Linked DNA regions of Homo sapiens. The protein of the gene in region 1 interacts with the protein of each later gene in a pairwise test. Each region holds a gene or a part of one and is shown in the gene's direction. Other genes may lie near its edges.

The links.
Region 2: the proteins of LGALSL (region 1) and LHX2 interact in binary tests that used the Homo sapiens proteins (3 or more experiments, as listed by UniProt).
Region 3: the proteins of LGALSL (region 1) and MAD1L1 interact in binary tests that used the Homo sapiens proteins (3 or more experiments, as listed by UniProt).

Annotation. Positions count from the first base shown.
Region 1 is NC_000002.12:64,449,456-64,457,226, forward strand, and holds the start of LGALSL (galectin-related protein), read left to right. Parts: upstream 1-4,706; 5' UTR 4,707-5,090; coding exon 5,091-5,126; exon of another isoform or gene 5,127-5,423; intron 5,424-5,888; coding exon 5,889-5,960; intron 5,961-6,133; coding exon 6,134-6,222; intron 6,223-6,832; coding exon 6,833-7,010; intron 7,011-7,771. UniProt on the Homo sapiens protein: Does not bind lactose, and may not bind carbohydrates.
Region 2 is NC_000009.12:124,014,629-124,021,767, forward strand, and holds part of LHX2 (LIM/homeobox protein Lhx2), read left to right. Parts: intron 1-493; coding exon 494-897; intron 898-6,470; coding exon 6,471-6,676; intron 6,677-7,139. UniProt on the Homo sapiens protein: Acts as a transcriptional activator. Stimulates the promoter of the alpha-glycoprotein gene. Transcriptional regulatory protein involved in the control of cell differentiation in developing lymphoid and neural cell types.
Region 3 is NC_000007.14:1,935,884-1,943,022, reverse strand, and holds part of MAD1L1 (mitotic spindle assembly checkpoint protein MAD1), read left to right. Parts: intron 1-2,451; exon of another isoform or gene 2,452-2,935; intron 2,936-6,125; coding exon 6,126-6,336; intron 6,337-7,139. UniProt on the Homo sapiens protein: Component of the spindle-assembly checkpoint that prevents the onset of anaphase until all chromosomes are properly aligned at the metaphase plate.

The DNA of each region.
Region 1 (7,771 bases):
GACAGGTTAACAGGAGGAAAACATTTTAATTACATACATACACACGGGAGTCCCACACATTATGAGACTCCAAAGGGTCAGATGGTTGGAGCTCATATAGTATCCTGAGCTACAGAAAGGAATAGGGCTTAGGGCTTCAAGAGGATGGTGGCAACGTAAGTTGTGGGAGGGTGAAAGTACGAACGTATGGTGAATAAAGGTCATCTTGTTATGTAGATAAAGTCACCCAGAAAATAAAAGTTGTCTGGAGCAGCCCTCTTCATGATGCAGATACTGTATTAGATTTCCTTTATAGATATACATTTCTTTTACAAAAGGACAGCTTTTCCAGCTGCAGTTTCTTAGAATAATCAGCTCAAAATATGCCAAAGAAGTATATTTTGGGGTGCCATATTCTAGCCTCCTACAGTTACATTTTGGGGTAGTGTATCCTGAGCCTCAACTGGGGACAATTTGTGCCTTCCCTTCCAAGAGGGGCATTTGTCAATATCTAAAGACATTTTTGGTTGTCACACTAGGAGGGGGAAGTGCTATTTGCATCTAGTGCTCAACGTCTTCTAACACATCAGACAGCCCCCCACAAAAAAGGGTTTCCTAGCCTAAAATGTCACTACTGTGAGGAGAAACCCTGCTTTAGAAAATGTGTATATACACACCGATAGAAAATGAGTGGTCTGTAAGTTCAAGTTGGGCCTTGGGATCATGGCCCATAGGAGGCCTCAGATGGCAGGCATGGTGGAAGGGATGGAGGCACGTGCCTCTCTGGACCAAGGCACAGACGAAAGGCAGCCTCTGGGAGCAGGGGTTCAGTTCAGCTGGTTGCCACACCAGAGAGAAGAGTGGGATTAGAATTCAGGCCACAAACAGAGCTGCAGTGTGGTCTTCGAAGACTTGTTGTTGTAGTTCTGCAGCAGTTGCTGCTATGCATATGCTTAGGGATATGCCACCTCCTTCAGAAAGTGGCCTTAATCCTCCAAATGGGAGTGAATCTCCCCACATCAGTGCTCAGGCTGTGGGTCTGAGGCCTTTATTATCTTACCCACTAATACATCCTGCCATTATGTCCCAGAGTAGACGGTAAGTTTCCTGAGGATGAGACTCATGCATTTTCACCTATCTCCATAGTACCACGGCATGTAGCAATACTGATAAAATAGTTGCTGAATTGTCATCAATATTTATTCTTCCTCCCAATATTAGAAATTCCATGTGCATACATTTGAACAAAACATATAAAATGTTAAGGTAAAAAGGAAGTAATCTACTATTTTCTTCTGGAAAAATCATTTAGCAAAGCCCATCTTCAAAGATTTGTTTGTACTTTTTTTCAAAGCTAATAATCTGTTTGACTGCCTTCCCCACTTCTTTAACGTTTTTAGTAGTTTCCAGTGGTAACATGGTTCATCTTGAAATTTAACTACTGCATTTCATAAATGGGTCCCAATTTGGTTAATGTTTTTACACACAAATACCTATAATCAAAGCATGGAGCAAATTTTGCCTATTCTTTGCTATACAACTCAAAAAAGAATTTTTTAAGCTCTATAATTCATTAGTTTGCTAATGGCTTTTCCCCATAAGAGATAGTTTGACCCTGCTCAACTTTTAGTTACAGCAAAAAAACTCATTCAGGCTTTCTCTCTGCTCTTCATATTCAAAATAAACCATTCTATAGACTGAGAAGGAATCAAGCACTTTTGGAATAAAAGGCAATTTTCCATGATAAAACATTCTGAGCACGTTTAGTACCTTCCTATTCTTTACATTCCTAAAATGTAAGAAACTCATCTCCAGCAATCCAAATATCTTAAACTCCACTTACAAAACAAATCAAAGGGTTATTCTTCGCCCTACAAAAGCACTTATCAAAAGATTCAACCCAAGATTATTTTCATTCAGCAGCACCTACTCTCAAACCCATTTCAATTTAGATAGTATTTACACAGCTTTTCATGAACCAGAGCTTTCTAAGAGCTAAGAGGGAATGATGAATGAGTTCTGCCCCTTAATTCTGCAAGTGAGGAAACTGAGGCTCAGAAGACCATATGAACTCTCCAAGCTGCAGGATAACAGCTGGGACTTATCAAGGGCCCAGGGCTTCTCACATCTTCACCACTTCCACCATGTCAAGGCCACCATCACGTCTTGTTTGGAATGCTATAGGAATCTCCTAGGTCCCATTTTTACCCTCCCTCCTATCATCCACCCTCTCTCCAAAGGCCACTCCATACAGCAGCATGTGGATGAATCTACAATAGAAGGCAAACTATGTCCCTCCTTTGCTCAGAAACTTTTAATATCTTCCTATTTCCCCATGTAAAAGCCAATCCTCAACCACAGTGTAGAAGGGCTATCCATTTCTAGCTACACATCTCCTCAGTCACTGCCCCCAGCCCCAGTACTTGGGGACTTTGCCCTTGCAGTTCCCTGTGCCAGCAAACTCTTCCTCCAGATGTCCACATGACTCACCCCCCTCCTTCAGGGGTCTTCTCAAATGTCACTTTACCAGAGGTGGCTTCCCTGACCATCCTGTATAAATAGCATCACCCTACCTCCTATCTCTCTCTCTACTGGCTTTTTAATTATTTTTATTATTATTGAGACAGGTTCTCACTCTGTCACCCAAGCTGCAGTAGAGTGGTGAGATCACAGCTCACTGCAGCCTTGACCTCCTGGCTTCAAGTGATCCTCCCACCTCAGCCTCCCAAGTAGCTGGGACTACAGGTGCACACCACCACACCCAGCTAATTTTTTTTTTTATTTTTGTAGAGACAGAGTCTCTCTGTGTTGCCCAGGCCTGTCTCAAACTCTTGGCCTCAAGTGATCCTCTTGCCTCAGCCTCCTATATTGCTGGGATTATAGGCATGAGCCACCGCACCTGGCCTTATTACTTTTTCCTAACACTTTTGTCACCCGACATATTTTGTTTATTGATTTCCTTTGCCCACTAGAATGTAAGCTCAGCAAAAAAGTAGCCTGCTGGATCCCCAGTGCCTGGTATACAGCAGGCACTCAGTATTTTGGTATAATAAGTGCTTACTATGTCCCCAATACTGTTTTAAGGAAGGTATTTACTTAATCTTCCCAATAACCTGAGATAGGCATTATTATCATCATTGTCATCTCTGAGTCACAGATGAAGAAACTAAGGCACAGAGAAGTTTAGTAATTTTTCCAAGATCACACAGCTAGTGAATAGTAGAGCCAGGATTTGAACGCGAGACACCGGCTCTTTAACCACCATCACATGTAGTGTCACCCTTATTGTGTCACTCAGTTAATGATAAAGAACTACTGCACTTTAATGCTTCTTCTCTATACCAGACTCTCAGAAATTGATACATACTAAAGTATGCTTTCAAATGTCAATCATTTCCTATAAGTGCCTAACATTTTAAAGTAATAAAGTGTGATTTTGAGCTAAGACTGGTAAACAAAGTGTGCTGCAGCCACAAGCGTACTGCGCTTTAGCCTCTATCTAGTTCAAGAACCACTTCCAGAGGATATGAGTGAGGCTTACAGGCGTGTGCAGGTAATTCTCCCTGCTCAACTGAGATTACCATCATTAGCTCTGGTCCATAAAGGGAAAACTAAGACACAAAAGCCACATTGATGTTCTAGGCCACACAGCCAATTGCAGTGACTAGAAGAAAGAAGCCTCCCCGGGCGGCGAAGGTTGCAGTGAGCTGAGATCGCGCCACTGCACTCCAGCCTGGGCCACAGAGGGAGACTCCGTCTCAATTTAAAAAAAAAAAAAAAAAAAAAAAAAGGAGCCTCTGAGGGGCCCTCTGGGACTGCAGTAGGTCACACATGCTCCCTGCTTATTAGCATAGAACGCCCCGGTGATTCATGCAATGGAATGTTTCAGCCAAGGATGTCACCTAATAGAGGATATGTTGATACAGCTTTATCTGAGAAGTTACATAATCGTCCTAGTGTGGAAATGCCATAAAGGAATTTCTGGCTTGAATAAAAGAGGTGTGTATCCCCTGGGAAGTACTCCACAAAGGGTATGAGGAGATTTTCAGTGAGAAGCTGACTACCCCAGACTGGGCAAGTGACTTGTTAAAAACAGGGCTCAATGGAGGCTCTCTGAGGACAGTGACTGCGCCCACTTTGATTTGGTAAGGCTTTGACTCCTGCTCGAGAGAGTCCAGGGACCCCTAGACCTGCCTGTCCTTCCACAGGGAAGAGCGACCTTTCTGTATCTAGCCTCCTGGGATAGAAAGGTCCCTACCTTGAGTCCTCTCTGCTTCGTTCTTTCAGGTCACACATTTATTTCTGCAAGCCTTCAGACCTTCCATTCTCTTTCTGCCCTAGAGAGCAGAATGAATCCTTCCCCCGATTTTGTTGGAATTCTCTGAAAGAAATCCTGCCAAGTCTCCCACTCTGGAATACCACCCCCAGCACCCAATCTTCCCTCGACCTCGCCTCCCATCGCCCCACCAGCGCCCAGGACGTGGCAGGAGGAAGGAGGCTGGAGGGAGGGGCGCGGGTGGCACGAGCACCTGTCACCTGACCGGCTCGGGCCCTCACTTCTCCAGCCCCGGCCCTGCCCACCCTCTGGCCGGTGAGAGCCGACAGGGCCCCCGCCCTCCCGGACCCGGACAGGCCCGTCCCTCCCGCCCCGGCCTCCGCCACCGTCCAATGGCCGAGGGGCAGGGCCCGCTGAGCAAGCCGCGGCAGCCCCGCCGGGTCCCCGCCCTGTTCCCGGTTCCCGAGCCGGGCCCCGGAGGCCTTTAAATGCTGCCCAGGGCCGACGCGGCACGGCCCTCGCCACTTTTCTTGGTCGGGCAGCGGCAGCGGCAGCGGCAGCAAGCAGCCCCGTCGGCCCGGGTCCGGGGCCGTTCTGGGCCGCGGCAAGCACCTTCGCCCTCCCAGCTCGCGCTGCCTCCCTCCCCTCCCCTCCTCCCAGGCTCTGCCTGCCAGGTCGGCGCCGGGCCCCGGGCGCGCGCGCGCGCGCCCCCTCGTGTGTGCGCGCGCCCGCCGCCAGCTCGGACCCGCGCCCCCGCCCCCGCCCCGCGCAGGACAGCCCCGGGATCCCCGCCCGCGCGCCGCGTCCCACGTACCCCGCCGCGCCGGGCAAGAAGATGGCGGGATCAGTGGCCGACAGCGATGCCGTGGTGGTGAGTGTGGCAGGGCGCGCGCGAGGCGCCCCTCCCCGCCGTCCCGCACTCCGCCGCCGCCTGCTCCAGCAGTGCTGGGGTGCTGAGCAGCCGCAGGCCCGGCCGGCGCCCGGCGCGTGGGAAGGCGCCCGGTACCTGTTAGCAGCCGCTGGCTGCGCGCGGCCGGTGTTAGGGGCTGGAGAGGCTCCCGGGCTGCGGGGCTCTGGGCTGGGGAGGGAGTTTGGGGAGGATGGCGGGTAGGGACGCCCGACAGCCCCCTCTGTGCCGTGCAACCGCCAGCCAGGTGTGCGCGTGGGTGAGTGTGTCCGGGGCGCGCGCCCCGCCACCGCCCCCGACGTACCGGGGATTCCCCCTTGGAAATGGGTCGGCGCCCGGGGCTCCCGAGAGAAGTTGAGCACGGCCGCTGCACTTCAGTCACGTCCCGAAGGACAGGCCTGGCCCACCGCGCTTCCAGAAGCGTTTACGGTTGGAGAGGGGCCTGCCCTCCTCCGGCGTGGGGCTCTGGCTCTTCGGTGGACCTCGACCTTGATTTTGATCTGGATCTGAAGGGTCTGCGGATCTTCAGAGGCTTAACTACCGGGTGGAAAGGATGGGTTTTGTTCGGGGGTGATGAGATTATCTAAGAGACGGTGAAGAGGCATCATCTGCAGACACTGTGTGCATGTGGAAGGCTGCTGGATTCCACCACATCTGTGTGGGTTCTTCCTCCAGCCCCCCAAAAAAGAGCCCATGGAAAGCCAATCTGTGTACTTCTATTTTTAGAAACTAGATGATGGCCATTTAAACAACTCTTTGAGCTCTCCAGTTCAAGCGGACGTGTACTTCCCACGACTGGTAAATGATTTTGCTCTGTGTCTCTGCCTGTACCTTCCTCCTTTCTCATTGCTTTTTAAAATTTTATTCATTTGTTTATTGCATTTTCCAGTGGGTCAGGCCTTCAGGGTCTGAGGTCTTGGCTTTTCCCTAACAGGCTGTAAAATTCATTTTTCTTCTCCCACCCTTTTCAGATAGTTCCATTTTGTGGGCACATTAAAGGTGGCATGAGACCAGGCAAGAAGGTGTTAGTGATGGGCATCGTAGACCTCAACCCAGAGAGGTAAGGCAGAGTCTTTGTCAGGACAGAACTATCAGGCTGTGGCTGAGCCCTGCCCACTTCTGTTGTGGTTTAGCACTCCTCTTCCTCTCCTTGTGGACAGTGTTGCTAGTTGCCAGTGCCAAGAAAGTACCATGTTCCCATGAAACGAATATGTATGAATCCCAGCCATCATTTCTCCAGACAGCTATTTATATCAGAGATTATAAATATAGGCCCACATTTTCTCTTTGACCCTTAGGGAGGCCAGAGGATTTTTTTTTTTTTTTTTAATGGTTTTGAAACATGGTGCCAGGAGCAAGAACTATCAAGATGAATAAGAACCCAACTTAACATTATTTCCCCTGGTCAATTTCTGTGGCTGTTTTTGAGAATTCCGAAGTGGAATTCTCTAATTTTAGTCATTTTCAACACCAAAGTTTTCACCAGAGCTTGCTTTAGGTAACAAAATAAGCTGGTTTGACTTACTTCTCCATAATCTAACCTCTCTTGAAGAGTAGTGGCCTCTTAAAAATGGACAAACCCAGAGGAGGAAGAAGAAATATAAGCACTTGGGTCATTTTGAAATGTTTTTATATCCAACCCTTAATCAGTGGGATGATTTTCTTTTCAGCTTTGCAATCAGCTTGACCTGTGGGGACTCAGAAGACCCTCCTGCCGATGTGGCAATCGAACTCAAAGCTGTGTTCACAGATCGGCAGCTACTCAGAAATTCTTGTATATCTGGGGAGAGGGGTGAAGAACAGTCAGCAATCCCTTACTTTCCATTCATTCCAGACCAGCCATTCAGGGTGAGTACCTCGAGTGCCTCGGCTCCAGCCACTGGCAGGCTGATAATGTTCGACTTACCTAGTGTGTGCCAAGAACACTTGAAGCAGCCAGAATTTCTGCATGTCCAGGAAATTTGTCACCCAATGGTGAAAAAAAAAGATCAAAAGAGCTCTGTTTGCTGATATAAATTAACACTTGCCATAGTATCTTCTTAGTTCTATTCAGGTCATACATTTAAATAGACCCATATTTACATGTCCAAATTGTTAAGAATAAGTAACTTTTCTATGTAGTACCCAACATATAGTAGATACCTACCCCCAAATATCTGATTGATTAATCAATACTAAGTACCCACTTATTAAATATTAATATTAATAAGGTTGAGAGCTAATAAGTAGCTCTTTTATTTGTATGACATTTTAAAGAATATGATGATGATCATTTCATTTTCTCTTGTTCCCTTTGCTAATGAGGCCATGTTCGTGTCCTTGTTTCCCCCTCTGGATTAATTAGCCTCAGTCTATTTCATGGTTACAGGCTGTGTGGCTGACAAATTCCTTCCCTTGGGGCTGGATGAATAAAGATTTGCTCCCCACTATCTTCTGGGCAGGAAGCACAATCCAAACTTTTCATCCAATCAAGCAGCATTAGCAGCCCCTTCCTCTATGAAAGGCAATGCCAAATAAGAGATGCAGGTAGTGGCACAGTGGCTTGTGCCTATAATCCCACCACTTTGGGAGGCTGAGGCAAGAGGATTGCTTGAGCAAAGGAGTTCAAG
Region 2 (7,139 bases), on another chromosome or scaffold:
AGAATCACTAGTAGACTCCAAGTTCTCTGTTTCTCCTTCTCCCCAGTTTTAGGATTAGGGTCTATGTATATTCTCTCTGTCTCTGTCTCTACGTCTGTGTCTCTCTCTCTTTCCCTGTCTCTGTGTTTCTTCCAAATTATAAAAGTCAGTAGGATTCCCAGGCGCTGGTTTGGAGGGAGGAGTAAAGGTTGAGGAGGGGGTAAGTGGTAAGTGTCTCCCTCCACTCCCAGGTAAAGGCTTTCCTAGGGCTTGCGGAGACTCTGGGTGAAGTAGAAGTCTCTGTAGGCATAAGTGTGTTAAGGGAAACTATTTTAGGACAGGACCAGGCCTGGGTCAAAATCTAGTTCTCTCTCCCCCCCATCCTCCAAATAAAGGCCGGGTTGTTCGTCTTGAGGAGGGGATTGCCCCCCGCAGCAGCAGCGGCACCTGGAGGAGGAAAAGGGGGGTACCCAACCGTGTGTTCCCACAGCCCCTCCCTCCATGGTCCCTACAGGCGCTTCTCTGTGCAGCGCTGCGCCCGCTGCCACCTGGGCATCTCGGCCTCGGAGATGGTGATGCGCGCTCGGGACTTGGTTTATCACCTCAACTGCTTCACGTGCACCACGTGTAACAAGATGCTGACCACGGGCGACCACTTCGGCATGAAGGACAGCCTGGTCTACTGCCGCTTGCACTTCGAGGCGCTGCTGCAGGGCGAGTACCCCGCACACTTCAACCATGCCGACGTGGCAGCGGCGGCCGCTGCAGCCGCGGCGGCCAAGAGCGCGGGGCTGGGCGCAGCAGGGGCCAACCCTCTGGGTCTTCCCTACTACAATGGCGTGGGCACTGTGCAGAAGGGGCGGCCGAGGAAACGTAAGAGCCCGGGCCCCGGTGCGGATCTGGCGGCCTACAACGCTGGTGAGTGCGCGGCGCACGAAGCGCCCCCATAGGGTTGGGGGAAAGTGTGCGGCCTCGACGGCCGGGAGCTGGATTGAATCTCTGTGTGCTGGGCAAATAGCGAGCCTTAAGCACCGGACGGCCTCGCAGAAGGGACATTAGCCCCCTGGGCTTCCAGACTGTGCGTCCTCGGCTGGAGCGGGAGGAGAGGGTGCAGTGGTCCCTTGCTGCTCCGGGTGCAGGGCCTTGTCTCTGATAAATTGTTTTTTTGGAGATGGCTTTTTGGTTTGGGCCTTTGCCCCACTTTGCTAGGCAGGAAGTGGCAGGGATGGAGAAAGCAAGGCGGCGCTGACGCCAAACAGGTTTTGGGTTGGCGCGGCTGAGGGCCGGGAACTGGGGCAGCGAAGGAACGAGGCAGGGCGGCGAGGGTCCCAAGAGAAAGGGCTGGCTGTGGCCCGGGGCGCCGAGCTCGGCCTGGAGTGCGGCCTGACCTCGTGAAATGTCCCAAGGGCGGCAGGCTTGGGGAACTCGGGCTTGGGGAACTCAGGAAAGCAAAGGCTGCGGTTCCTTTTGCTCGGCCCGATCCTCCTTTAAAGACAGGTCTCAGTTTTCCCGGACTTTTTCCTCCGAGTTTCCTGGCGCCTGCTGGGGTGAGGGCCGTGACCCTCGGAAGCGAGCCCCCCGGGCGGGGACGAGACCGGAGCAGGCCTGGCCTCGCGCCGGGGTGGGGTGGGGTGGGGTGAGGTGGGGGGCTTGGTTCGGATTTCCGGCATCTTTGAACCCCAGGCCATTCCCGGAGAAGCTCTGCCCCCTCCCGCGCCCCTCCCTGCTCAGGACAGCTGCAGAGGTTCTGAGTTCCGGCAAATGAGCCGTCAACATCTGCCCGAAGTCTGCAAGGCCCGGAAAGGTTTATGACTCTCCGGGCTTCCGAACTAGAGTTTATGTGCAATTATTTTCTTTCTTTCGTTTGCAACAGAATTAGATTTGGAGATTTTGTGTTCTTCTTCCTTTTCCCTTTAGTCTAATGCACAAGCAGAAAAAAGCAAAAACAAAAACAAACCCAAGACTGTGCAGAGGGTGCTACGGCGGGAAGAAGTCAGTTATTTTCATCTTAAAGAATCTGAGTTGAATAGAGAGGGAAATGAGGGGCGGGTGTTCGCTCCAACGAAATCGCTTGGAGGATCATGGGGCGTGTGTCCCTGTGTGCGGAACTGGGAGGAAAACGCAGCCCCCAGTTTGGTAAATGGTGAAGCAGCGGTAGGCCGGTCGGTGGCGCGGATTTAAGATTTGCTGAAGGCACTACCACAGATGTAGCTCTCTGGAACTTCCATCCCTCCTCTCCTACCACCCCCCAAAAAAAGACAAAACCGAGTTCAGACCGGCTCCCCCAACACCAAGCCGCTTCTATTTATCAAGTGGGTCAACTTCCACTCGGAAGCACCTCGCGGGGCTCGGCTCCAGGGCACCTGGTGGCTGGGGAGCTGTATTGTTTTCCTGGGCACGGAGGTTCGGCGCCGGTTTTAGGATTGTGCAAAAAGAGAGTAGAAGGTACAGAGATTTATTTCTGCTTTTTGCTGTTCAGCCGCCGTTTGCCCCAGCGAGGTGGGCTGGAGGCTGAATTTCAAGCCTTGTTTAACCTCTACAAGAGACACCCTCCATTCAGCCATCTCACTTTCTCTCTGGCCTCCCTCTCTCTTTTTTTCCTTTCCGTTCTCTCCGTCCTTTCTCTCTATCTCTGTCTCTGTGTGTGTCGTGTTTGTTCCCGTGCCCTCCTCTCCGACCTTGGCCGGGGCTCCTAGTCCTGAGAGAAACGGCGTTCGGTGCGCCGGCGGTGGCTATGCGGCTGGCTCTTTCGGGGCTCCCGGGACTAGGTTGGGGAAAGAGGGCATCTCCCCGGCCTCTCGGGGCCCAGCCCAGTCTTCCTAGATCTGGCGTCCGCCCTTCCCTCCCCTCCCGCACTGGCAGGAGAGAAATGGCCGCAGTGTGGGCCGCGGGGCAGCTAGGACTGGAAAGCGGGGACCCTGGAGGGTGCGATCGCGGACGGGGTGTGCGGGCGCGGGTCGTGTGCGTGTGCGTGCAGGGTTCCGACCACGGGGACACGAGCTTGTTTGTGGCAGTGTCCCACATCCTGTGGCCCAGCCACGACGACCCCTTGCAAAGCCTCTTGCTCTGGGGACAGTCCCTCCGAGGCGCGGCGGCACCTTACTGAAGGGCGGCGAGCTGGGGGCCGAGTGGGGAGGGGGCGCCGTCGGGGCGCCGGGCGCTGGGCTTACAGCAGAGCCGCGGGCCGCGGGGTCGGAAAGTCCTTCCGGGGCGGGGCCGCAGCGGCCTCTTCCCGCAGCCCCTCGGGCCCGGGCCCCGGTGGAACGGAAACCTCCCCCTACCCCGGGAGGGGCTGCCAGCGGGCTGGGGGTGCGAAAACGGCGGCAGGAGCGGGCGAGGGGCCCGGGCCGCGCACTTTGCGCCTGGGTTTGCGCGCCGCGGCCGCGGGAGTCCCGCGCGGACCGGCCGGACGCCCGGCCTCCCCCAGCCCCAGCTTTTTGTGTGTGTGTGCCTGGCGGCGTAATTACTGATTTGATTCCAATCCATTATTTAGACAATTGAACCTACAATCTCGTCTTTAGTAAAATGAGGCGAAGTCAGATTTGATTACAGGTTCAGTCCCAGCGACAAGAGCTCGAAACCCGATGGGTTAATAACAGATCACGAGTAAATTATTCATGATTTTACGAGCTCTTTAGCTCCATTGAATCGGCCTAATTGAGAGGAAAAAAAAAAAAAAGGAGAGAGAAAGCCCGGGTCCTCCCCCTCCCCTCGGCCCCTCGCTCCTCCCCGGATCCGATCCTGGGGAATCTCGACCCGCCCCCGGGCACTGGGGGCGGGAGTGAGGGGGTTCGGGGCGCCGGCCAAACCTGGGCCCCACGGCTGCCTCCCCCGCCGCCGCCCCCTGCCCTTGCCTCTGGCCGGCCTCGGCCTCGCTACTTAGGGCCGGCTCCTTTCCCTTTTTCTCCACTCCCCTTCTTTCCCCTTTTCTCTACTCCCCCGCCAATAACGGCTTCGGAAAAGGCCTCCCCCGCAGGGACCGGGTCTCCCGGAGCCCCGGGATTCAGCTCGGCCACCGGACCCTCGCCACAAGCTGCGCCTGTTTCCGGGACTCGCTTTCCCCTCCGCTCTCCCTATTTCTTGCTGTCTTTGTAGCTGTCTCTCTGTGGTTCTCCTGGCTCCTTCGCTTTCTTTTCCTCTGTCTGTCCTCTCTTTTTCCTGGCTCTGTCCATCTTCCGTCCCTACCCCCTCTCTCTTTCTCTCCCTCCATTCTGCCTTTCTGTGTTTGTCTTTTTCTCTCCTTTCTCTGCCCTTTCTGTCCCCCTCCCCCGCACTACTACCCCACCTAGGCGGCACTCAGGGCAGGTCCCTTGGGCCCATGGGGGCGCCGGGGTCCCCACGGAGCTCATTAACAGCAGCCAGGCCCAGGCGGGGGCTCGGTGGAGGGATGGGCCCAAAGATACCCCGTAGGGAGGCTGCCCCACCCCCAGTGGAGCTGGGGACTGGGGGAAAGAAAAGGGTTGCTCACCTCAGCGGGTTCCAAGCAGTTCTGGTGGATCAGGTTCAGAGGCATCCTCTGATCCCCTTTAAATTGCCGGACCCGCGCTCTTCACTCTGGGCGTGCTCTCTGTGGGAATGCAGCCCCGGGGGTGAGGGGACCTGAGTGCCGGTGGAAAGAGGCCCCTAGGAGGTGTAGCCCCTAGCTAACAGCTCCAAAGGCAGGGGCAAGACTTGTATCTTGCAAATTCTCTCTGCAAGGGGCTCTTCCCCATCTGGGCAGGGGAAGGGGGAGGTCACCAGCAGAGTAAAAGTCCTTTGGAGGTAGTGTGGCCAGGCAAAATGCAGCATCCCCAGTTAAATTGGAATTTTGGGTACGTAACAAATACATTTTTAGTGTAAGTGTCCCCGGCAATATTTGCATTTTGGAAAAATAACGAATAAATTTGAAATTTGTAGTATAAGTGTCCCGTGTAATATTTGAATTTTAGATAAATGACAATTTTTTAGCATAGCTGTGTCACCTGTAGTATTTGAATTTCAGGTAAACAACAAATACATTTTTAGTATAGGTATGTCCCATGCAATATTTAGGACATGCTTATACTAAAAAATTACTTATTATTTTTCTGAAATTTATATTTAACTGGGCAACCTGTATTTTCATTTGCTAAATCTAGAGCTCTGTTACGGGTATGTGATGAGGGCACAAGATACCTTCTCAGTTCTCACTTTAGGCGGACCGAATGTACACCCCTTATGAGGCTTACCCCAAGGCAAGACCTTAAGTGTGGCATGGCTCGGGAGGTGCCATGAGGAGGCGACCTTGGGAGGGGTCCTGCAGGTCCCCATCAGCTTCCAGGTGGCTGAGCAATTTTCTGAGGCCCAGGTTTTCACCCATATTCCCCACCCCCAATGCCAGCCAGGCATTGGCAGCGTGGCCCCCATGAGGCTCCTTGTGGTTAGGGACAGGCTCCCTCCTCCCTTCGTGGTGTAGTGGAAGAAAACAAGGAGTACTCCAGTGCTAAATCTAGGCTCAACAGATCAAGATCAATCTAGCTGGTTACCGGTGGTGTGGCAGTGTGCAAGTGGCTTCATTTCCCTTAGCGTTAGTTTCCACATCTCTAAAATGGGAATAGTCATAGCCACCTCTCTGAGAGGTAATGATGTACAGTGACATTTGTAAAGCCAAACACACACCATAGGTGTCTACTACATGTTTATTTCTGCCTCGGACTTCCTTCCCCGTCCACTCTGCCGCTCTCTGTGGACTGCCGCAGATCTCTGAACTTCCCCGAGCCTAATTTGCTCCACTTGTTCACGGAGAAACAATCATCTTACAGGGTAGCGATGAGGATTAAACTGCAAAATGCAGTTTCCAACCTTTGGCCCAGTGCCCAAGGCCCAGGGGTCCCTCAGTACTTTTGGGTGTGGCAAAATGAACATGAATCTCTGTTTCAGCAGTTTCTAGGTGCCGGTCCCAGACACGGTAGGGGGAGACGGCAGAAAGCACTCCTCCTTAGAGTGCCTTGGAAAACAGGAGGAGGGCAGGCCCAGAGACCCTGTCCTGCTGTGTCCAAAGTCAAGTGACTTCCCTTGCTGAGCCTCAGTTTCAACATCTGTAAAAACGGGAAAAATAATACCTGGTGCTCCTAGGATTGTTTTAAGTACCTAAAGAAAATGTGCCTGGAAAGCCCTTTAACACATCACCTGGAGTTCAATCGGCCATCAACAAGTCGTAGCTGTTGTTGCTGCTGCTGCTGCTGCTGCTACTATTGTTCTTATTGTAACATAATGGCTCAGAATGATTTTTGGATTCTCCCAGAGCCGGGATTCAGTGCTGCAGTTCTTAGCAGTGTGATCCTGGGTGGATCGCTGTCTCTGAGCCTCAGTGTTTCCATCTATAAAATGGGGATGATGTCCCCCTTTCATTGTGGCGCAGACATGCAGCAGGGTTAAGGATTGAAATGTTTGGCAGTGGGTGGGGCGAGTGTGGATTTGGCATGGGGGGCGGGTCAGGAAGTTCACCCACCGGCTCTGTGTCTCCTCCCTAGCGCTAAGCTGCAACGAAAACGACGCAGAGCACCTGGACCGTGACCAGCCATACCCGAGCAGCCAGAAGACCAAGCGCATGCGCACGTCCTTCAAGCACCACCAGCTTCGGACCATGAAGTCTTACTTTGCCATTAACCACAACCCCGACGCCAAGGACTTGAAGCAGCTCGCGCAAAAGACGGGCCTCACCAAGCGGGTCCTCCAGGTCAGCCAGGGCCAGGGGTGAGGGCATCTGCGACCACCAGGGACTGGGGTGGAACCCTGCACCCCTCGCCGTGGGCCTTGGAAGGACCTTCCACCCTGTGTCTGCTTCTCTGTGTGTTTAATCTTTCTCATTCTCTTTCTTCACCTCTCCAGCCTGTCCCCATCTGTATTTCAGTCTTTTTTTTCTTACTTTGTCTTTTCTCTTTTTCAGTTTTTGCCTCTCTGTTTTTCTGTTTGCGTATCGCTCCATCCTCATTGTCTCCACACTCGGTCTCTTTTCTTTCTTCTAAACAATTCTTAGTTTCTGTTTATTATTCAAGTGACACTCATTTTACACACATTCACATCATAAAAGGTTCAAACATTTCAGATAAATCTAGAGGCCGCCCCACCCCATCCCAGGACGTACACCCAAGGTGACTATCATTAGCTCCTGCTTCTTGCTTCTTACCCACTCTAGTTTC
Region 3 (7,139 bases), on another chromosome or scaffold:
TATCGAAAGGTCTTAACACCTTTCTCAGAATCACTTAACATGAACGTGTGGTTGGTTCCTGGACTCTCCACTGTGTTGTTGGTCTGTACGTCGGTCCTCATGCCCACACCACACCATCCTGATTGCAGTGGCTTTGTAGTAAGTTTTGAAATCAGGAGACTGAGTCTTCCTCCCGTGTTCCCCCTTTGCAAGCCTGTGGTGGCTCTTCTGAGCCCCTGCAGTTCCGTGTGAGTTTCAGAATCAGCTTATCAGTTCTTCAGGGAGGCCGGCTGAGTCCTGGGATTGTACAGAATGTGCAGATCAGCCCTGGGAGTCTCTGGTCCCGACAGCGCCGGGTCTTCTGATCCGAGACATGGGATGTTTCCTAATCACCTAGATCCCGCCTAGTTTCCTCCCATGCTGTTTTGCTGCCTGTGTGTTTGAAATGGCTCCTCTTGGTGGGGTGGGTGCAGGAGTGGTGCTGTTTGTATAGGACATAGGGCCGTCCTCCCATCCCGACACTCGGCTGCCCTGGAGACGGGCCTCAGCACAGGGCTCCCATTACCCCTGCACTTCCAGCACCTGCTGAAATGTGTGGCGCGCGGGCTCCGAGGCATGGAATGGTGTGCCTGACTCTGCGCTGCCCAGGCTGTGGTCACAGCAGCAGGCTGGAAGTTTGGCTGTCGCCCCCAGCCACCTTGGGGCACGGTCCTGTCTCACCTGGAGCAGAGGTCCTGGGCCCCCAGGGGCTCAGGCGTGGCCTCCTTCTGGAGGGGCCGGGAATGTCCCCTCCACTTGCTGAGTGTTGGCCCAGGAGGCTCCTCTGTGGGATGCCAGCTGCTCCCACCATGAGTGGCAGCTCCACCCCTGTATTCACAGCTGTGCTGAGGGCATCCAGGGCCTGGAAATCATGTCAGATGGACAGACAGGTGTGCGGGTGGATGGACTAAGGGAAGAAAGGAAGGATGGCAGGAACGAACGCGTGGAGGTCAAGAGCCTGGCCCAGAATCACGGTGGGGACGTGAGCGGGTGGGTGGTGCCCAGTCTGCCCCTCCCGTGCTGCCTCTAGGGGCTCTGCCTTCTCCAGGCGTTAGGCAGGGAAAGTCCCCTGAACTTACAGAAAGACGACTAGGTGCCTGGAATGTTGCCATCTGCACAGAGCCCTAGCGCCTGTCCTCCCACTTCCCTCGCCCTCCTGGGAGGTGGGTTCTCCACGCCACCAGTTATGGAGCCCAGGCTTGTTCTCAGCCCTGGTCAGCGGTGCCATCGCAGGTCGCTCCAGCCCCAGCCGCAGGTGCCCAGTGAATGCTCTCCGTGACCCAGGGCCTCCTGCTGCAGGTGGAAGCCGGGCCACGGGAACCTGCGCCGACCTTGGCCTCACACTGTGGCTCCGGGAGAGCAGGACCTGGTGGTGCATGCGTAGCGGCTGAGGAGGACAAGCCTGGGGGCTGGTCCCAGCCCGGACACGGTGGCTTTGCACACACCAAGCCTTCGCCCCCAGCGGGGCCAGCAGTGCAGGGCGCTGCACTGTTGGGGGCCAGAGGGTGACAGGATTGGTGTTTAAGAAGAACTTCTCAGTTTTATCTTTTCTCTGTTTTGATTTGGTTTCCTTCATCTCTACTGGCTTGGGCTTTTGGTCCTTAAATCCTCTAATATACAGAATTGTTTCCTGGACCTCAAGCCCCCCATCAGGGGGGAAACCTCATCCCAGGATGATGGGCCGGTCGTGGGGCACCCTGGCTGGGGGCTGGGGGCTGGGGCTGTGCCTCTGGCTCTCGTTCCTGCCCGTGGAACGTTGAACGTTGCCAGGACATCCACCCCGGGGAACTTGACGTCCTCAGGCACTGCTGGGTCCAACGCCAGCGCTGGGCGCACCACCGCTGACCCCCGACCCCTCCTGCAAGTCCCCCTATCTGCTAAGTAGGAGGATGCTGGGGCCAGGCGAGGCCTTGCTGGGCAGCCTCTAGGATGGTCACTACCTCCTCCCACCTGGAGGTCCCTTCAGGAGGTCCGCGGTGTTGAAGCCTGGGGAGGAAGAGGAGGCTGAGGCCTGGGAGAGGAAGAGGAGGGTGAGGCCTGCGGGGGGAGGAAGAGGAGGGTGAGGCCTGGGGGAGGAGGGTCTCACTGCTCTGGGTCAGAGGAGGGCTGAGTACACGCTGTGCGGCCTGGTTCTTGCCAGGGGTCAGCTGACTACAGCCCCGCCTTCTGTGCAGCCCCTCAACTAAGAACCGTTGTACATTTTTGAAGGGTTGAAGAAAATCAAAAGAAGAATATTTTGGGACACACGCGGGTTATCTGAAATTCAGATTCGTGTTTCCGTGCCCGCAGCTCCGTCAGCGGGGCCCATGCTGGCCTTGTGTGCCCTGCGGCTTTCTGGGTGCAGTTGCAGCGCTACGTGGTTAGGACGGGGGCAGGGTGACTGCACAGCCCCGTGACTGGCTGCTCTCCGCAGGAGGCGGCCCCACCCTCTGCCCACATCCTCCCTGGCTCCTCGAGGCTCCGTAGGATGGTGAAGAGGTTGAGATGCTGTCCAGCCCACAGAGGCCCCGGAAAGCCAGTGCCGCCCGTCAGAGGGGTCTCCTGAGTGCGTGTGGGTGGCTGGATTCTGCATACTGGGTTATCTTAACCCCGGCTGTGAAAACTGGATGAAGTAGCAATCCTTTCAACCCCAAGAGTCTGTGATTCAGCCAGAGTTACAAGATGTCTCTTCATCCTCTGAGGTTTACAAGGTTCTCAGAAAACCTGTGAAGAGCTGCGCGGATCCTCTCCTGCCCCGGCCCAGCGGCAGGGCTGCCGCCTCCCTCTCCCCTGGGCCTGAGTGGGTGGATTTCCCCTCCCCTCCTCCTTCCCAGGAGAAGCACAGAGGGAGCGGCCAAGCGAGCCGTGTCTGCAAACCCCGCTTCCCTCTGCGGCGGCCTCTGCCATCGTGCCATGGGGCCGGAGGTCCCTGGTCCAGGTCAGCATGTCCATCTCCACTGGCCTCTTCCATGAGGGGGGTGGCAGGGCCAGCAGTTAGCTTGTGTGACGTGACGTCAGGGGGATGTCTTAGAGTCCGGGGTGGCACCAGGAGGGGTGAGGTCTCTTCCCTTCTTCCCCATCCTCTCCTCTCTCCCTGTTGGAGGCACATTCTGGGCTCTGGGACCACGATTGCCCATGGCTGATGAGCTCCAGCCCAAGTGAGGTCCCCAGGGTACAGCCCAAGCCAGGCCTCGCCGTCCTTCGGGGACTTGGAGAGCAGTGGCCCACAGCAGCCTGAGCTCTTGGGAGGCTGGAGGCTTACTGCGCCCGGTCTCTTCACCCCGTGGGGTGTGTCCACACCGGCCTCTCCTGAGAGCGTGGGGTGATCTGAACACAGGATGTGTTTCCCTGTTCCCCTCTGGGAGATAGGAGAGTGCGTGGGCAGAAGCCCCAAGGGTGGCAGGAACTCATTGCCAAAGGGGAGGAGGCCATTGCTATGCGTGGTGCTGGCCTGGCTTGCTGGGTCATGTCTGTGCCTGACATGACCCATGTCATGACCATGGTCATGTCTGTGCCTGACATGACCCATGTCATGACCATGGTCATGTCTGTGCCTGAGGGACCGGGTGCCCATCCAGTCTCACTGCCCCACAGCTCACAGCCACAAGCTGCAGAATCTCAGCACTTGGCGGGAGCCCTGGCCCGTGTGTGTGCGTGTGTGTGCGCCGCTGGCTCCAGCCCTGGCCTGTGTGTGTGTGTATGTGTGTGTGTATGTGTGTGCGTGCACCGCTGGCCCCGGCCCTGGCCCATGTGTGCGCGCGCCTCTGGTCCCGGCCCTGGCCCGTGTGTGTGTGCCTCTGGCCCTGGCCCGTGTGTGTGTGTGTGTGTGTGAGCGCCTCTGGTCCTGGCCCTGGCCCGTATGTGTGTGTGCGCCTCTGGTCCCGGCCCTGGCCCGTGTGTGTGTGCGCGCCTCTGGCCCTGGCCCGTGTGTGTGTGCGCGCCTCTGGTCCCGGCTCTGGCCCGTGTGTGTGTGTGTGTGCCTCTGGCCCCAGCCCTGGCCCATGTGTGTGTGTGTGTGTGTGTGTGCGTGTGTGTGCGCCTCTGGTCCCGGCCCTGGCCCGTGTGTGTGCGCCTCTGGTCCCGGTCCTGGCCTGTATGTGTGTGTGTGTGTGTGTGTGTGTGCGCGCCTCTGGCCCCGGCCCTGGACTGTGTCCGTGTGTGTGTGTGTGTGTGTGTGTGTGTGTGCCTCTGGCCCCGGCCCTGGCCCGTGTGTGTGTGTGCGCCTCTGGTCCCAGTCCTGGTCTCTGTGTGCGTGCGTGTGTGTGTGTGTGTGTGTGTGCGTGCGCGCCTCTGGCCCCAGCCCTGGCCCATGTGTGTGCACCTTTTCATATGTTTATCAGCTTTTTGGGTGTCTTTTTGGGAAGTGTCTGCTCACATGTTTTGCAGATTTTTAGAGTGGGTTGTCTGACATGCCCTTGGTTATTTCTGACATGCCCTTGGTTATTTCTGACATGCCCTTGGTTATTTCTGACTTCTTCGTATGTTCTGGATCTGAACCCTTTCTCAGAAATGTGATTTTCAAACAGCACCTCCTGCTCTGTGGGTGCCTTTCCACTGTTTCAGTGGATGAAGTTCTTAATTTCTATAAGGTCAGTTGTACTCTTTTTTTTTTCTTTTACGGCCAGCACTTCCTGAACCCTGTTTGAGTAACCTGTGTCTACTCCCAGGAGACAGAATGTGGTGGAATTGATGTTTGTGTGTGATGTGAGGTCGGGGTCTCAGGTGTGCAGTGACCCTGCACCTCCCTGCCGTGGGCGGCTGTTGTTTGTGTGTGGCGTGAGGTCGGGGTCTCGGGTGCGCAGTAACCCTGCAGCTCCCTGCCGTGGGCGGCTGATGTTTGTGTGTGGCGTGAGGTCGGGGTCTCGGGTGCGCAGTGACCCTGCACCTCCCTGCCGTGGGCGGCTGATGTTTGTGTGTGGCGTGAGGTCGGGGTCTCGGGTGCGCAGTGACCCTGCACCTCCCTGCCGTGGGCGGCTGATGTTTGTGTGTGGCGTGAGGTCGGGGTCTCGGGTGCGCAGTGACCCTGCACCTCCCTGCTGTGGGCGGCTGATGTTTGTGTGTGGCGTGAGGTCGGGGTCTCGGGTGCGCAGTGACCCTGCACCTCCCTGCTGTGGGCGGCTGATGTTTGTGTGTGGCGTGAGGTCGGGGTCTCGGGTGCGCAGTGACCCTGCACCTCCCTGCTGTGGGCGGCTGATGTTTGTGTGTGGCGTGAGGTCGGGGTCTCGGGTGCGCAGTGACCCTGCACCTCCCTGCTGTGGGCGGCTGATGTTTGTGTGTGGCGTGAGGTCGGGGTCTCGGGTGCGCAGTGACCCTGCACCTCCCTGCTGTGGGCGGCTGATGTTTGTGTGTGGCGTGAGGTCGGGGTCTCGGGTGCGCAGTGACCCTGCACCTCCCTGCTGGGGGCGGCTGTCCCCTGCTGTGGGCGGCTGTTCCCTGCTGTGGGCGGCTGTCCCCTGCTGTGGGGGGCTGTCCCTGCTGCAGGGCTGCATGGTGCTTGTTGCTGGGGGTCGGTCACCCACCACAGGTCAGCAGGCTGGGCCTCCAGGCGCACTCCTCCCTCAAGGATGCCACACACATCCCGGCCCTGGGTTTCGTGGGAACATCAGGTTGCGAGGCGCATTCCTGAGCCACCCACGCTGATGCCAGGCTCCCTTGCCTTCCATCTCTGTGTGGTTGACCTTGTTTCTCTTGTGGCACGGGGCACCTTCCAGGCTGGTAGGGAAGAGATGGGAACATGGCCACACGGGCTCCCAGTCTCATCCCAGCCAGGAACCTCAGAGGAGAGGAAGCCTCCCTCCCGGGCACTGAGTGTGGAATTCTGGGAAGCACCGCACTTGGCTGAGCAAAGGCCGCATGTCCCCTCTCACCCTGTTCCTGTGGTTAGGCAGAAGGGACCCAGCAGGTGGCCAGGCCTTGTTCCTGCACCTGTCCACAGGGCACAGGGAAGGAGCCACTCCTTCCAGGAGAGATGGCTGCCAGGCAGGCTCAAGAAGACAAAAGAACTGAGCACTGTGCTGTGTGTGACCCGTGCTGTGTGTCTTCCTGGGCCATGGTGACCCATGCTGTGTGTGACCCGTGCTGCGTGTGTGCCTGGGCCATGGTGACCTGTGCTGTGTGTGTTCCTGCAGGGTGACTATGACCAGAGCAGGACCAAAGTGCTGCACATGAGCCTGAACCCCACCAGTGTGGCCAGGCAGCGCCTGCGCGAGGACCACAGCCAGCTGCAGGCGGAGTGCGAGCGACTGCGCGGGCTCCTGCGCGCCATGGAGAGAGGAGGCACCGTCCCAGCCGACCTTGAGGCTGCCGCCGCGAGTCTGCCATCGTCCAAGGAGGTGGCAGGTAGGCACCCCCCACCCCCGGTCCCTGCCATCCTCGACCTTCCGTGGGTAGGTCCATCCGTGCGCCTTTGGGGCAGCCTCAGGCGCCCCTGCCTGTCATCCCCAGAGGGTTTGTCCTCCCCTGTGGGCAGCCGGGTCTGGTGGTTGCTGGGGCAGAGCACCCTGGCCCCGTGTCCCCATGGCCCCGTGGGGTTGTGCAAACAGGTGGAGCCATCCGAGTCTGCAGGCAGCTGTGGAGAAGCAAGGGGCTGAAATTTCAGGCCCTTAAACTAATTCGTATCATTTGTCAGTTTATATGTACCCCATTAATCACAAGTAAATCCAGTCCTCCACGAAAACAAGTCCATCTCTCACCAGCTTAAGTGTGCTTCATGGCGTCCAGAGAGCCCTTTGAGGCCAAGGCCTGTGGCGTCCCAGGGAAGAATGAGGCCTCCATGAGGGCCAGCAGGGCCTGCCCACACCCTCCAGGTCTACATGAGGCCCACGGCCTTTGGAACGCCAGCCTATCCCCTGATGTGGGGAGGTGGTGCTGGGGTCTGCCCACGCCAAGCCTCGGAGGGTGCTGCCGGGGCTGTGTCGACTCTGCAGGGTGCCCCTGAAGGAGCAGGGCTGGGAGTCCAGAGTCACTGTGCAGTCTGCACCCCCAGCGAGGCTGTGGGGCTCAGGAGACCCCTGCCCCCTGTGTTGCTCTCTGCTGTTGGAGGGAGCTGGGCACTGCCCCACGCTCCTGGTTCTGGGGGGACCTGGGGGAGGGTTCCCTGTCCAGCCCTTAGCAGCAGCCTGGAGCGTGGCCCGGCGTCCCCT